2 linked regions of the Homo sapiens genome follow. The protein of the gene in region 1 purifies or fractionates together with the protein of each later gene. This does not show direct contact. Each region holds a gene or a part of one and is shown on either strand. Other genes may lie near its edges.

Region 1 (5,216 bases):
ATTTTATCCAATTTTTGGTTACTAATTTCTTGGTTTCTTTGTGTTGTGGTCACATCATGTGGCTTTTACACACATTTTCTCTGTTTTGGGGATTTGCTTACTTTTTTTTGTAGTCGTGCAAGATTTTTTGTGAAAAGAAAAACTGTATCAAGTTCATCACCTTTATCAATTTGACCTGTGCCGTGAACTTCTTTAGATTCATTTGATTCAAATGGATCTAAGTATTTTAAACATTTAGAATACTAATTTAAGCAAGGCTTGAAAATTAAATGGAGTAAAAGCAATAAAAAAAATCAATATTAGCCTGGGCATTGGTGGCTCATGCCAGTAATGCCAGTACTTTGGGATGCCAAAGCAGGAAGATCTCTTGAGCTTAGGAGATTGAGATCAGGTTGGGCAAAAACATGAAAAGACTAAATCACATCTCTAGCAGGAAAAAAAAAAATCCAGATATGATAGCTCATGACTATAGTCACAGCTACCCCAGAGGCTGAGGTAGAAGGCCAAGAAGTTTGAGGCTGTGGTGATGGTGAGCTATGGAGGTACCACTGTGCTCCAACCTGTGTGACAGAGTGAGACTCTCTTTTCTTTCAAAAAAAAGGAAGAAAGGAAAATCAATGTTAGTCTGTCAATACATTTTCTTATTGTTTTAAAACTGTATTTGGAAAGTTTCAAAATGCATTTGGACTGCATTGTTCTAAAGGCAAGTTAGAAATCCAAATATCTTTTGCACAGTTATTTCACCATTAATTCTTACTAGTTTTGGTTGTATGATGGGAGATAGACGTATAAAAATAACTTATTTAAAATGTCAGTGGATTTTTTTGTAATGGACATTCCTGGATGATAGGTGAAATTTGAACATGAACTGTTTGTTAGATAATAGTATTGTCTCAATGGTAAATATTCTGAATACAATTGTTTTGTGATTGTGCAAATGTTTTCTTTCTTAGAAGACAAGTATTGATGTGTTAGGTAACAAGCTTGTGATGTAGTAATGACCTGTCAAAATGTTCAGGAAGGAAAATAATACATAAGTATATATAAAAATATATGCCTCTCTTTATATATATGGGGGTCATACATTTTATATATTCATTGCAAGACATGTATTATATATATTATATATATTTATTATATATTATATATTATATAATACATATATAAATATTATATATAATGTTATATATAAATATTATATATATATGCCCTCACACAGGAGAGAGAGTATCGAGCGCGAGTATGGAGGGAGGGGAGAAGTAAACAAAAGGGGCTGAATGTTAATATTTGATATATCTAGATGAAAGGTCTATTTCTTGCACTTTCTATTGAAAGTATATCAAAATAAGTTGGCAGTGATGAGTAGCATGTTAGGTGTTTGTAGGGTCTGTTTTCAAGGGAAATTGACAAGTTTGTTGGTTTTATGTTTTAATTACATATATAAATTTATATTATTAATGTATGATTAGAGTTCCTGATAAAATAAATCTGGGAACTGCTGCATATTATATATGTTCCCCATAGAGATTAATTAGCATATTAGTGTAGTAAGGATGCTGAGAAATAACTTAGAAGGGGAACTTTATTTAAATTAACACTTCCCATACTTATTTGGAGTAAAATGTTCTTTTTTCAAGGTACCTCTTAAATATCCTACAGATCAGTGGGAACACCAATGTGGGATTACTTTTTAATTGATTATTTTCTTCTCTATACTTACTCATCATTATATATTTTTGAATCAGACAGTAACTTATATTGCCTAATAACTTTTGGAGATCTTTTCTGTCTCGTCTAGCTCTAACACTGTGCTGTTATCTACAAATTTGGATCTTCATTGCTGATATCTAGATCTGCTTCATCGAGGAATATAGACTTTATTTTAATCTTTTTCCTTTTAAAAATATTTTTGTTTTTATAATTTTGCAGAAGTTAATTTGACACATTTATGAGGCATTTATTTAAAATAAAGTCAATGCATTATTTTAGTTATTAAAAAATAAGTAGTTTACAAATGTTCACTATTATGTAATTATTGGTGATTTTAAAGAAGAAAACATCCGGGTATGTTTTATCTTTAGGTGTGTACAGAACAGGAATGCTATAACTTCCTACATTAATTTTTTCAAAATCAGTGAAAATAAGTGATGCATAAATGAGCTTCACCATGGGAAAAAATGAAGCTAGGCAATGCAAGAAAGTAATGGCTTCAGAGTTAAATATTGACTAAATTAATTACCCTCATGTGCTCTATAGCTAAATAATCTGTTTTGTTTTCTCTACCTCAAACGAAATGCTGAAGAGGGGAGCTAAAATGGCAGTAGAGATTATAGTCTTTCTGAGTGCTCAAATAATTTCAGAGACATGAAGGCTAAGCATAGGTCGTAAATAGGACATTGAATGCACGTGTAGCATCCTGATGATTTCAGGATAAGAAATGTAGCACTAGAGTATTAAGTAAATGCCTTTTGAAGCCTAAAAGCCATTTATTAAAGGAAGGATAGTAATGAACTTCAGGAAGCAATTACCACAATTTGTATTAGCTAAATATATAGAGGTTCGAGAAGATGAATTCATTGGAGTATCAGAGAATTAATATATCCCTAATTTTTAAAAAATTTATCATAGAAAATAAACATGTCTCTTATAAAACATCTATAGTACTTACTGTGCTATATTTCAGTGCAGAATTTGACTTTCTGTGAAGTAAAAATGAAATAAGACAAATTGTAATATAAAAATTTTATAAATTTTTATTTATTTATTTTTTGAGACAGAGTCTCGCTCTGTCGCCCAGGCTGGAGTGCAGTGGCGCTATCTCAGCTCACTGCAAGCTCCACCTTCCGGGTTCTCGCCATTCTCCTGCCTCAGCCTCCCGAGTAGCTGGGACTACAAGCGCGTGCCACCATACCCAGCTAATTTTTTGTATTTTTAGTAGAGATGGGGTTTCACCATGTTAGCCTGGATGGTCTCAATCTCCTGACCTCGTGATCTGCCCGCCTCGGCCTCACAAAGTGCTGGGATTACAGGAGTGAGCCACCACGCCCGGCCCAATTTTATAAATTTTAAATGATAAATCATAGTAAATATATATTTATAGGATGGGCGTGGTGGCTCACTCTTGTAATCCTAGCACTTTGTGAGACTGAGACAGGCAGATGACTTGAGGTCAGGAGTTGAAGACCGGCCTGGCCAACACTGCAAAACCCTAACTCTACTAAAAATGTAAAAATTAGCCAGGCATAGTGGTGCATGCCTGTAATTACAGCTACTTGGGAGGCTAAAGTAGGAGAATCACTTGAACCTAGGCGGTGGAGGTTGCAGTGAGTCGAGATCATGCCATTGCACTCCAGCCTTGGTGACAGTGCAAGACTGTCAAAAATATATATATAACATATATAACATATATATGTAATATATATATAACATATATAACATATATATGTAATATATATATAACATATATAACATATATATGTAATATATATATATAAGATAACAAGTATTCTATATATTGAAAATTGAAACAAATGTGAAATGTATCCATTGATAAATGTGATGCATTGTGACGTATTTTTTATTTAAATAAACACTGGTTATAAAACACTGATTTATAACAACTATTTTAAATGGGTTGTTAGCTTGAAGATAAATGAGATAGGGCATGATTCAGGTTTCTGTGTACACACTATATTCTAATGAAAGTAATTACAATTATCTTCTAAACAGCTGCAGATATTTTTTCTATAAACAATTTTAGATGTTACATTGTTAAATGTTAGCTTTCAAATTCTTCACATTTTAACTCAATGAAGTCCTTTTTAGCAAACTTACAGGAATCATTGTATCATTCAGCTATTAAATAAGGAATTGTTCTAATTCACATCTTAATTAAGAACTTTACTAGGTTATATCTTTTGCAAGTATGAGAATAATCTAGATAGAAGGACTAGAATTGGATTAAAGGTGATCCAGATAAAAATAGTAATTCTAATGAGGAAATTTTTTAACATTGAAAATAGTACCCTGTTTATTTTTTTTAATGTTAGAGTCAAACCATTGCACATTACTGTGTAAAAATACACAAAGATGGTAACTTGCTGCTAAAGCCCTTTTTACTTTTGAATCTTTGTATTTTTTTCACCTTTGTAATTTTAAGTTGTGCTTTTATCACTCATTTGTTTTCTATCTTTATTTCTGTTTGGGTTAAAGTTACAAACAGCAAGTTTTTGTGTTTAAATTCCTGAAAATGTTGCGATGGAATTACAGTAATGTGTTACGGCTTGGGCCCCTCGCAGGAGTGTATCTCGCAGTCAGCAGTGAAAACAAAGTTCGAACAGCACACTATCAGAGCTAAACAGATACTAGCTACTGTGAAAAACATAATGGATTCAGTAAACCTGGCAGCTGAAGATAAAAGGTATGAGTTCATTTTGTTGCAACATAAAAATGTTAGTTTTTTTGTCAGACTTTTGTTAAGATGAGGTTTTAAATTGTTGTACTATAAATACTTTTTACACTGAAATCAACCTTGTGGGTTTAACTGATGCCTACTTCTATATTTTTAAGTGCGTATTTGAAAGTGTCGATATTTATTCTGCAACCTTGCACACATCATTTATATCCCCTGGACCTCACTATTCCTGTGTATGAATTGTGATTTTTAAAATGTTTTGTGGCTTTAAAATATCTTTGAAGCAGTGGAAGAACCATTTCTTCAAGCAGATTTTTATGAAGAAGTCCAAAACAGGTGATCCTCTTTCTGCATTCAACCCACGACCCATTTTTTAATATGGTCATACATTGGTATTTTGAAATCACTATTTTATACTAGTTGTGTTTGTTTATTGCCTGGTGAACAAACAAGGCGATGCTACCTGCCAACCAGAAAGTTGATTTGGTAAGCAGTACCCTTTATGTTATACTGTACGGCATTATTTTATACTATTTGTTACCTTGTAAAGGTGGCAATGAATACATGAAAATACCAGCATTATCGATACAAAGTATAATTTTCACAAACTTGGTATGCTTGAAACACAGATCGGGATGTTATTAGATGTGACAAAAGTAATGATGTTAAGCCTCGATAGGACCTTCAGTGGACTTAAGCCAGTTGAAGGAAACATAAACGCATCAAAGCTTAAGTCCAAGATGACATAACATTGGAATTTTAAATGTATTTGCTCTTTCAGGGAACAAAGACCCCTTCATGT
Region 2 (4,357 bases), on another chromosome or scaffold:
GGTGATTAGTTAAAAAATAGAACATGCTCGAGAATGACCAGGATGGTTGTGAGCATGTGTTAATCAGGTTTCCTTAGGAATTAGCCACTAGACTTTAACCTCTGTAAGGAGACAGACTTAAAATGGAAGGGGCATCTTGCATCAGGAGCCCCTTGACGACTGCAGTCATCAAGTAGAATTTAAATTGTATTCAATCAAAAAGGAAAAAGTGAACACCCAGTTCAGTCAAAACTACCAAAATGGTTTTATGATGGCTATAACATAATACAATTTCCATTCAAAAGACTCAGGAAAAGAACAATGTCTCTTTCTGTTTTCTCTGTCTTTATTCAACTTGATGAGGTAAGAGTTGAAATGACTTTCTTTGTCATGGGTTCCTTGACTGAGTTGGTTGAAATGCCCACCTGGAAGACTCTGTATTTTAGTCTAGCATTTATTCCCTCTGCACTGGAAGCTCCTTGAGATTAGCAGCCCTGCATATCTAGTGCACCATGGAATTACTCACCCTTAGCATAAGGCCTGACATGTGGCAGCATTTAATACTTATTAACTGAACAAGTGTTGGACCCAGCTGGGCAAGAAATGCCTCAGGAGGTTTTTATTTTTCCTCTTCAGATAGATGTTGCTTCCTGCCAATTGCATCCTGTACCCACTGTTCCTTCTGGATTCCATGATTTACCATCCAGCAGGGCTTTTCTGAGTCGTCTCCAGAAGATGTGCCGCCCCAGGACACTGTCCTCCCACTCCAGGTAAGTGTTCCTGCTGAGAAGGCGGTACAGCTCCACCTGCTGCCTGAGCAGGGTCTTCTCCACCTTCTGCAGGACAATGAAGATGATACCAGCACGACTGCTCAGAAACTGCCAGGTCTGAGCAATCTCATATTCAAAGATACACCAGCGGCTCTGGATGAAGTGCTGGGACACCACAACAATCACCTTTCGGCTTTTATGGAAACCTTCATGGATGATGTTGGCAGCAATGGCCACACCGGGAATAAAGTCTCTGTAGTGAAGGCAGAGCTGAAATGGAGGCACCCCTTCTTCTAAATTCTTTACTAGCTCATTCCTTACCCAGTCCTCATCCTGGCTTGAGTAGATAACAAAGGCATCATAGATGTTTTCACCTCTACCATACTTTATGCAGCCAGCAAGAAGCATCAGGTGAAAATAGAACTTATAGACCAGAACTGCTACAACAGATACTACAAGCACACTGAGGACCGACACACCAATGATGGTCTTATTCATCTGACAGGTGATATTCAAACTCAGCACAGGCATGCCCTGCTTATCTGAAGGTGTTGCACATTCCATTCGTTCAACTTCCACCAAGAGCTGCCTCTGGTCCTTGATCCATTGCAGGAAACTCTGGTGTTCACAAGTACAAGCAAAGTCATTCTGAGTAAGATTTAAGAAAGCTAGACTACTTGGAAAATGCTGTAGTTCCTGTTTTTTGGAAGTCATTATGTGATTGAGACTGTAATCAAGAACCTGGAGGGAGTTCAGACACTTATAAGGAAACGTATCCAATGAAAAGAAGTTGTTGTGGCTCATATTTAGTACCTGAAGACTGGAGAGTGAGTTAAATGCTGTTGGAGACAACTGCTCCAGTTGACACTGAGAGAGGTCCAGGAAGGTCAAGTTTCTCAGCTCTGTGAAGATATCTGGAAGGAAGTTTTCCTGGAAAGAATTGCCAGCCATTTTCAAGACTTCGAGACTGGACAAGCCATTGAAGATGCCATTGAAAGCAACTCTGGTGTGAGTATGAGAAATGTCAAGGTAAATGAGGTTTCTGAGTGATAGGAATACTGAAAACTCACTCATTTGTTTCAAATTGGAATGCTGGAAATCCAGATGTTCTAGTTGTTCTAAGCCCAAGAAGTTTGAACTCATGGTAATAACACCATTGAAGCTCAGATCTAAATACTTTAGGCTGGTTGTCCCAAAATCACTTTGAGAACAGCAACCTTTGAAACTCAAGCCATTTCTACTGAGATCTAGAAACTCAAGGCTTGGTAGATCAACTTCTGAAAAAGCATTCCCACCTTTGTTGGAAGTGAAAGTAAGCCTTTTGAGAGATTTGAGTTTCAATGTGGGAAACTGTCCAAATTTACAGTTAACTAATTCTAAATGTTGCCATCCGAAATTATAAGAAAAGTCTTTTACCCTTTCAATAGTCACACTCACCAGGGAAAATGAAGAAACATTTGTCAAACAATTAAATAAGTCAATAATATCATCGAGGTAGTAGTCTAAGTATGCTAATCGGAATTCTTCAATGGTCAAATTGCACAGGCCCTCTAGAGCAGATTTGTCAAACTTTTCCAAGTTTCCTTCATTTCTAAATTCTCCCAGAACCAAACGATGGACTTCTAAACCAGCCAGACCTTGAATACAAGTTTTCATTACATTTAAACTATCAAAATTATTTCTTAAAGTCAGCTTATGAAGCCTAATTTCTTTAAATGCACCTGGTTGGATAAAGTTCATAGGGTTCAGGGACAGGTCTAAAGAGAGATTGAGTAGGGGCATTTGATGTAGAACCCGCAAGTCTGTGCAATAAATACTTTGAATCTTGTTGCTGGAAAGGTCCAAGTGCTCTAGATTGGTCAGATTAGAAAAATACTCAGGTAATTTGAAAGATTGGATAAGATTGTGAGCCACATTAAGTTCTTTCAAAGTTTTGAGATGTCCAATGGGGAAGTTCTCTAGAGATGCTAGATTTGTCTCCACAGCCACCAGCTTCTGTAAACTTGATAGTCCAGAAAAGGCTCCCAGGGCTAAACTCTGGATGGGGTTTCCTGTCAATATTAAGGTAGAGAGGTGGCTTAGGCTCTGATATGCCCCATCTTCAATTGTCTGGATTTCACACCTACAGGAATAAAAAGACATTGATTATCTAATATTTCTGCTGAATAAGAACCTAAAATAGAATATTAATCCTAGTCATCCAGCTCTTCATACAGATGTGATGGGTCATATGATTGTGCATAGGCAAAGACATCAAGCAGGACAGATGATGATGGAATAAGCAAATAAGAAGCCCCACAGACTGAGTATTATCATACTGGCTGCAATGATAGGCTCTTTTTTGTCATGTTAGGCATACATGATAAGCAGAGGAGAAAATCCATAAGAAGGAAATCAGTTAAAGATCAATAATTGACATATATAAAGATTGTGCAGTTGATAAAGCATGTAATAGCCTTGGATCAAGTTTAGCCATTTTCTGTCACACAAAATTGTGATTATACATCTGATTGGTACAGATAATATGGATAGTTGTTAGTTGGTAGCCAAGATAAATGACTGGTAAATATCAATTTCAGAGATACGAAAAATTACACATAAGTGTCACAGATACTCTTAATGTTTATGAAAAGTGCTTACATGACAGCTAGATATTTGAAAGTTCTTGTTATCAGAGGTAAATGCTTGTAACAGGTGATAGGAGCGAGTTTTGTGGAAAAAAGTGAAAATTATGTGCTATAAGAGTTCACATCCAGAGAACCGTTGTGGACCAAGAAAATCAAAGTAGGTTTCTCTGAGAACACTTAAGTTGAAAATTGAAAGATGAGTAGAAGTTAACAATAAAAGGAGGTGAAGTGAACAGCAAACACAAAAGCCCCAAGGTTGACAGAAAAAAAATGACACAAGGAGGAATCATGACAAATAGCTTCCATGGTTGGAGAACAGAGATGAAATTGGAGTGTACAATATGGAGTTGTGGAGAAAGAAGGTTCCCAATTAGGCAGAGGTTTACCAACCAGATAAAGGGTTTTGAATTTTATCCTAAAAGAAATGAAAGCCATGCTACACACAATGTTCAGAGACATGTCCTAGAGACAGGGCTTTGATGCAGCCAGCAAACAGCAAGCCAATGAAAAATTCCTTTCAGCATTGCAGGTGCTTGTCAGTTACAATGTACAAATAAGTTCTTTCTTAATCCAGCCTGAATTACATTTACAATATTCCCCACCCATTTTATTTAGCTTCTTCAGGAGTTTCCTAGACAATAAAAGCATTGTGGTCCAAGCTTTTGTTATTTATTGGTAACTAGATAAAGGATAGGCAGTATAGTAGAAAGAACGCTGGAAGAGTGGACAAAAGAGCTTGGGTTTGGTGTTTCTGCAGTCCTCTCCTACTGTGTGATCTTGAGTACCTCTTTTCCTCTCTAGGTTTTAGTTATCACATTTATAAATCAAACAGCTGAACTTGATTATTTTTGAAGTTCTTTCTTTCAATTATATGATTGTTATAGCCCATCATTCTATCTCTGCATTGCTCTATACATTAGGTGAGAAGGAAAGGGTCTTGCTGTGTCTCTATATCATTACATTGGTGATAATCACTTTAGA

The links. Proteins that work in one complex are often made in the same cells at the same time.
Region 2: the proteins of MFN1 (region 1) and TLR4 purify together in Homo sapiens (affinity purification with western blotting; one study listed by BioGRID). This does not show direct contact.

What each region holds. Positions count from the first base shown.
Region 1 is NC_000003.12:179,370,922-179,376,137, forward strand, and holds part of MFN1 (mitofusin-1), read left to right. Parts: intron 1-4,298; coding exon 4,299-4,420; intron 4,421-5,216. UniProt on the Homo sapiens protein: Mitochondrial outer membrane GTPase that mediates mitochondrial clustering and fusion. Membrane clustering requires GTPase activity. It may involve a major rearrangement of the coiled coil domains.
Region 2 is NC_000009.12:117,710,903-117,715,259, reverse strand, and holds part of TLR4 (toll-like receptor 4 isoform A precursor), read right to left. Parts: intron 2,872-4,357; coding exon 612-2,871; 3' UTR 1-611.